Homo sapiens: one gene and its partner. The protein of the gene in region 2 purifies or fractionates together with the protein of the main gene of each other region. This does not show direct contact. Each region holds a gene or a part of one and is shown on either strand. Other genes may lie near its edges.

Region 1 (3,653 bases), about 28 Mb from region 2:
TATAAAGCCATGAAAACTGATGAGACAGAACAATTACATTTGTGGCTTCAGGAAAAAAACAAAGCCCACATGAATTACAGAAAGGTCTATTAATTAACCTGGGGGCTATAAACAGGTTAAATGGGATTCAAATTTTCCCCAAAGTGGGAAAGAAATCTGTGACTGAAGAGAATAGTTAATACAAACGATAAGGTTACATAGGAAATGGAAAAGATATCATTTTCCTTTACATTTGGAAACAGACACAATCTAAAGATATCTGAAAATTACTATGTCTGGAATAGCAAAATTGATCATTTTGGGTGGTACCAATGCTGATATGTACTTTCTATCATTTTTCTAAAATGAAAACAGGCTATATGGGTTTTTATTTTTGTTTACTTTTAAAAAATCTTATTTAAAATCAAGATATGTCAAACAAAAAAGCTTCTCTCATCATCTAGATTCATGTTTTTGCTAAGAAAAATTTCTTCAAGATCTGAATGGTGGCAAACACCATTTTCGGACTCTAAATTATAAAAAAAATAGTCTGATAGAAGTAAATCAATGTTTTACAGATGTTTAATAAGTACTGGGTCAAAGCTCACTAATCAGTAAAAAAGTAGATCCAACAGGTCTTCACAGAATCAAATACATTTGTAGAAGACAAAAAGAAAAAATTTCAAGACTATCACAATGAAACAGGCAAATAATGCTATACAAATCTTTTCATAAAATCACTAGATCTTATTCAGAAATATCATCCCCGAACCCTGAACATTTATATTATATACTTTAGACATGCTAAATTTAATACAGAATGAAATAATTTTGCAGAATGTTAATTTAAATAAATTTAAGTTTCAAACACACTTAAAGCCTGGTTTTCCTATAAAAAGGGGTATTACTGTTTTAAAGTTTTAACGAATTCAAATTCAGATACTGGTTGTAGTTTTAGAAAGCACCTACAACCTTTTTCAAGACAACAAATATTAACCAATGCTTACTACTTTTTAAAAATACTTTGTCACTTTTAAAATTTTATCACTTTTAAAATATATCATATATACAAATCATATAAAATAGAGCATGTTTAATCATTCATTACTTTGCAGATAAAGAAAGAGAAGCTCAAATGTTCCAGTTGACCAAATACACTTGTCTAGTAACAAATGGATATTAGTATGAAGTTCCGGCTTTAGAAATTGACAGTTAAATCAGATGGGGAACAATAAAAGCAACTTTAACCAAAGTATAAAGAACACAAATGCAAAATATTAAAAGGGCATATATACTAGAACATAAATTTCAAATTAGTGCACCAGAAAGCTCTATATCTTTAACATTACAACATTTAAAATCTACTGAAATATTCAAAATCAACTATAACACCCTCACTTAAATGATGTACACACTTTTATCCGTATTATAGTCCATAACATCAATAAACTGTGTGGTTTTACCACAAACTGGCAAACTAAAACCTACAGGATAAACATGGCCCATTGCCTATTTAGAATGGCCTGCAAGAATGGTTTTTACGTTTTTAAGGCGCTTATTAACAAGAAAAAAAAAAAAGCAAAGAATATGTCAGAGAACACTTACAGCCCACAAAGTCTATTTGGCCCTTTACAAAGAGTTTTGCCAACCCCTGATATAATACAAATGACCAAATTTTAAGTACTTTTCTCCATCACTGAAACTCCTTATATATACACTGGAATATAATATACAAGGGGAAAAGTCTTGGAGGTTAAGGAAATGCAGGTTATAGCTTGCATTTAGGTATCAGGAAATTCCCAGTCTTTCTGAGTTCAAGATTCTTCACCTCTGATAAGAGGCACTTAAAAAAGGTCAGTTTTGGGGAAAGGAAAAGCAGGACATTTGAATCTTCTATGAGTTTTTCAACCTGTAAGAAGACTCTCCTTCCTTATAACTATTGGACTTTAATAAAACCTGCCTGCCCCAACCCTCTTGCTAATGACTGGGCTATGTGATATATATAAAATCTGGTCCAGAACACAAAACAAAATTCCTTCTTCAACAAAACAGGTATGGTATATGCATACATGTTCTGATTATCTACTGCTGTATAAGATGATCACCCTAAAACTTGACTTAAAATGGTAACACCTTTCATTATGGCTCATGGTTCCAGGGCTCAACCGGGGTCTCCCATGTGGCTGCAGTCAAATGGGGCTGGGGCTGGGGCTGAAATCATCTGAAGGCTTGTTCATTGACAAGTCTCGTTGATGTCTAGGCTGGGAAGATTCAAAGCTGGAGCTTCTCCAACATTTCTGTGTGTGTGATTACTCATTACTATGGCAACCACCGAGTAGGCAGATCTTTTACATGGTAGTTTAGGACTCTCGTGTCCCAACAGAGACGGGAACAGGTAGAAATCCAGCAACACCATCACAGTATTTATTCATCACAAAAGCTTACCTAGCTTCAAACAGAGGGGACACATATTCCAATCACTGTTGACAGAAGTGTCATACATAATACATGACAGATGTTTCCAAAATTACTATAGTTTTATTTAAGGGTAAATATTTTAATTATATACTTGAGGTGCATTTTTAATAACAAAAATTCATTTAAATAGGTCAATGTTAAAGCTTATAGTATTAAGTTATAAAGCTAATGTAAACTGCTGCTTCTGGCCATATTCTTCACTGACTTGAAAAAGTACACTTTGCATACATTTTAATTCATTTTTTTAACGTAGAATGAATTATAAAAGAAGAAACATTTTAATACTCTCACAAGCTACTGCTGTTAAAGACTATAATCATCACTGGCATATCCTTTTTGAAAAGAAATAATTATCTCTTTTAGATATAAAGTAATATCCACTAGTTCTAGGTTGACTTTCTTTTAACCTACCTGAACAAACGTTTTTAACCATTTCCTTTGTCCTGAAATTTAACATTATTGATATTCTATATAGAGATATGTATACTTTCAATTACTTCATAATAGTTTGACAGTAGTATCCCAACCCAAGAATAACAACAGTAAACAAAGATTAGAAATGCCAGGTTAAGAAAAGGCCTATAAGCATACAATTCATGCACTACAAAAATCCTAATTTCTATGACATAAAGCACTTCACATTGAAAGCCTTTTTTAGATGTCTATATAGAGAACTATAGACATTAAAAATCACTTTTTTTTTAATTTGTTTTTTTGGAGACAGAGTCTCTCTCTGTCACCCAGGCTGGAGTGCAGTGGCGCAATCTGGGATCACTGCAACCTCCACTTCCCAGGTTCAAGTGATTCTCCTGCCTCAGCCTCCCGAGTAGCTAGGATTACAGAGGCCCGCCACACCATGCCCAGCTAATTTTTGTTATTTTTAGTAGAGACAGGGTTTCACCATGTTGTCCAGGCTGTTCTCGAACTCCTGACCTCAGGTGATCCACCTGCCTTGGCCTCCCAAAGTCTTGGGATTATAGGCATGAGCCACCGTGCCCGGCCTTAAAAAATCACTTAAAATCTTTAAAAAAAAAAAAAAAAAAATTTTTTTTTTTTTTGAGACAGTCTCACTGTTGCCGAGGCTGGAGTGCAGTGACATGATCTCAACTCACTGCAACCTCCGCCTCTGAGGTTCAAGCAATTCTCCCTGCCTCAGCCTCCCAAGTAGCTGGGATTACAGGCACCTGCCACCACGC
Region 2 (3,653 bases):
CACTGTTTTAAAATATGTTAGAATTTAAGGCCGGGCACAGTGGCTCACACCTGTAATCCCAGCACTTTAGGAGGCAGACAGATCACTTGAGGTCAGGAGTTCGAGACCAGCCTGGCAAACATGGTGAAACCCCATCTCTACTAAAAATACAAAAATTAACCGGACATGATGGTACGCACCTGTAATACCAGCTACTCAGGAGGCTGAGGCAGATAAATCGCTTGAATCCTGGAGGTGGAGATTGCAGTGAGCCAAGATCATACCACTGCACTCCAGCCTGGATGACAGAGTGAGACTCCATCTAAAAAAAAAAAAAACAGTTAGAATTTAAAAATTAGTCCTGAAATTAAGTTATCATTCAGCATAGGAAAACTATTATACGTAGCAAGCAGAATCTAAGAGCTTCAAGGATGCGCTCTTCCACATCTCCTAGACCAGGGGTCAACAGAGCCGGAGAGTAAATACCTTAGGCTTTATGAGCCACACTGTCTGGGTCTCAACTATTTCGCTTTGCCATTGTAGTATAAAAGCAGCCACACATTATCTTTTCTTTTTTTTTTTTTTAAGGATAGGGTTGTGTTCCAATACAATTTTATTTATAGAAACAAACAGCAGGCCATATTTGGCCCACAGCCATAGCTTGCCAATGCTAATCTAAAGCACATATAATTACAATAAGTTAAGCATTTCATTACATCTTTGAGAGAAGGGTCATGTTAGCTGTACAGTTGTCTTTTTCAAAGTAACTTGAAAATCTTTTCCTTTTCGTTATTGTTGTTGTTGTTTTTGAGACAGGTTCTCACTCTGTTGCCTAGGCTGGAGTGCAGTGGCGCAGTCACAGCTCACTGCAGCCTCAACTTCCTGAGCTCAGGTGATCCTTCCACCTCAGCCTCCCAAATAGCTGGGACTACAGGCACACACCACCATGCCCGGCTAATTTTTGTACTTTTTGTAGAGATGGGGTTTTGCCATGTTGCCCAGGCTGGTCTCGTGCTCCTGAGCTTAAGCAATCTACCTGCCTCAGCCGCCCAAAGTGCCAGAATTACAGGCGTGAGCCACTGAGCCCAGCCTCATTTATCTTTTAATATATCTAAGTGTTTGGCATCTGAATTCATTGAGTAGAGTAGCACACCATATAATTTATTTAATATGGTATATTAAACATGATGATAAGGAGAATAAAACTTGTAGGCCATAAGATTTTCTTGAATGTGTTAACCTGAGTCAGTGTACCTTTTTTTTTTTTTTTTTTTTTTTTTTTTTTTTTTTGAGAAGGAGTTTCACTCTTGTTGCCCAGGCTAGAGTGCAATGGCGCCATCTCAGCACACCACAACTTCCGCCTCCCAGGTTCAAGGGATTCTCCTGCCTTAGCATCCTGAGTAGCTGAGATTACAGGCATGTGCCACCACGCCCAGCTAATTTTGTATTTTTATTAGAGATGGGGTTTCTCCATGTTGGTCAGGCTGGTCTCGAACTCCCAACCTCAGGTGATCCGCCCACCTTAGCCTCCCAAAGTGCTGGGATTACAGGTGTAAGCCACTGTGCCCAGCCCAGTGTATCATTTTTTAATGGCCTCTAATGAAATCCTAGTTTTATCAACTCTAATTTTTGTCTTTTTTGCATCTCTGAACCTTTTCTTTTTTTTAAAGGATTTTGTTTTTACTGTGGTATATTATACATAACATTTTACCATTTTTAAGTGTATGGTTCATTGGCAGGAAGTATATTCACACTGTTGTGCTGCCATCACCACCATCCATCTCCAGACCTTTATTATCCCTAATTAAGACACCCACACCCATGAAGCACTAATTCCCCACTCCTCCCTTTCTCCAGCCCATGGTAACCACTAGTCTACTTTCTGTCTATGAATTTGACTACTCTAGGTACCTTATATAAGTGGAATCATATAATATTTATCCCTTTGTGTCTGGCTTATTTCACTATTAGCATAATGTCTTCAAGGTTCTTCCATATTGTAGCACGTATCAGAATTTTATTCAAGGCTGAATAAGCCGGGCACGGTGGCTCACACGTGTAATCCCAGTATTTTGGGAGACCGAGGCGGGCAGAGCACCTGAGGTCAGGAGTTCAAGACCAGCCTGGCCAACATGGTGAAACCCCACCTGTACTAAAAATACAAAAATTAGCTGGGCGTGGTGGTGTGCGCCTGTAGTCCCAGTTACTTGGGAGGCTGAGGTGAATTGTTTGAACCTGAGAGGTGGAGGTTGCAGTGAGCAGAGACTGCACCACTGCACGCCAGCCTGGGTGACAGAGTGAGACTCTGTCTAAAAAAAAAGCAAAAGAAAAAAGGCTGAATAATACTGCATTGTATATGTATACCACGTTCTGTTTATCATAATCCATTGATCAACATTTGGGTTGCTTCCATCTTTTGGCAACTGTAAATACTGTTGCTGTGAACATCATTATACAAGTATCTATTTGAGTCTTTTGGGTATATACCTAGAAGTGGAATTGCTGGATCAAATGGTAATTCTATGTTTAATTTTTTGAGGAACCACCATACTGTTTTTTACAGCGGCTGTACCATTTTATATTCCTACCAGCACTGCATGAGGGTTTCAATTTCTCCACGTCCTTGCCAATGCTTATTTCCTGTTTTTTGTTGTTTTTATAATAACTATCCTAATGAGTGTGAAGTAGTATCTCATTGTGGTTCTCACTTGTTGGTATGCAATACTTGTAGTTGGTGTAAGAGACACAGCAAATTTGGATATTGCATTAATCAATGTCTGGCTGTAATTAGATATATATGCATGTATGTATGCATTGATTCGTCTCCTCCAAAATTACAACATGGTTTATAAGAACATGTGAACAATAAGATAAATAATACAAACAGCTCAATTCATGTCACTGGGAAAACTGAAAAAATAGAAGAAAACTAAAAAATGAAACTATAACCCAAATTAGATGAACATGAAAGTGTGTTGTAATGTCCCCTACAGTTACTAAAATTGGAGTGAAAAAAATCAATCGTGAACTTCCTAGAGGCCAAAGTAAAAATAAAAACAGGGTCGCTAACATGGTTTGTTTATTACAGAAGATGATAGCATAGGTGAAGAAAGGCTTTTCTTGGCTCATTGATGTAAGAAATAAGCTATCGCTATTTTAAAATATGTAGAGATAATTGTGTTACTGACACCAGCAGATTTCAGACTGAAAGCAAACAGGATTTTTTCTTATATTATTGGGGTTGGAATTGGCAATGACTCCGTAGCCTGACTACTGTAAGACTGTTTTTGTAGGTAGAATAGTAGTTTCAAAGCACAGTTAGGGTGACAGGAAGGCAACTCCACCTATCTCAGCAGAGAGATAAGTTCTATTCCCTTGGACTTTAGTCAGTTAATGTTGTATACAGTACAACAGGTAAGATCTTGAATTGTCTCCTATGTATTTATATATGTACCTGGCATTTCCTGCCTAGGTCACAGATTGTAACTACATGGGTGTTTATGCAAATAGTCCTCTTAAAAATATATCCTTATCTTCCATTTGGAAGAAGGGAAAGGTCTTCATGTTCAGATTTAATGTTGAAATTTCTTGGTTGGGTGTGGTGGCTCATGCCTGTAATCCTAGCACTTTGGGAGGCTGAGGCAGGAGGATTACTTGAGCCCAGGAGTTTGAGA

Evidence for each region. Proteins that work in one complex are often made in the same cells at the same time.
Region 1: the proteins of RBM47 (region 2) and YTHDC1 purify together in Homo sapiens (affinity purification with mass spectrometry; one large-scale study listed by BioGRID and IntAct). This does not show direct contact.

Annotation. Positions count from the first base shown.
Region 1 is NC_000004.12:68,340,043-68,343,695, forward strand, and holds part of YTHDC1 (YTH domain-containing protein 1), read right to left. Parts: intron 1-3,653. UniProt on the Homo sapiens protein: Regulator of alternative splicing that specifically recognizes and binds N6-methyladenosine (m6A)-containing RNAs.
Region 2 is NC_000004.12:40,441,334-40,444,986, reverse strand, and holds part of RBM47 (RNA-binding protein 47), read left to right. Parts: intron 1-3,653. UniProt on the Homo sapiens protein: Single-stranded RNA-binding protein that functions in a variety of RNA processes, including alternative splicing, RNA stabilization, and RNA editing. Functions as an enzyme-substrate adapter for the cytidine deaminase APOBEC1.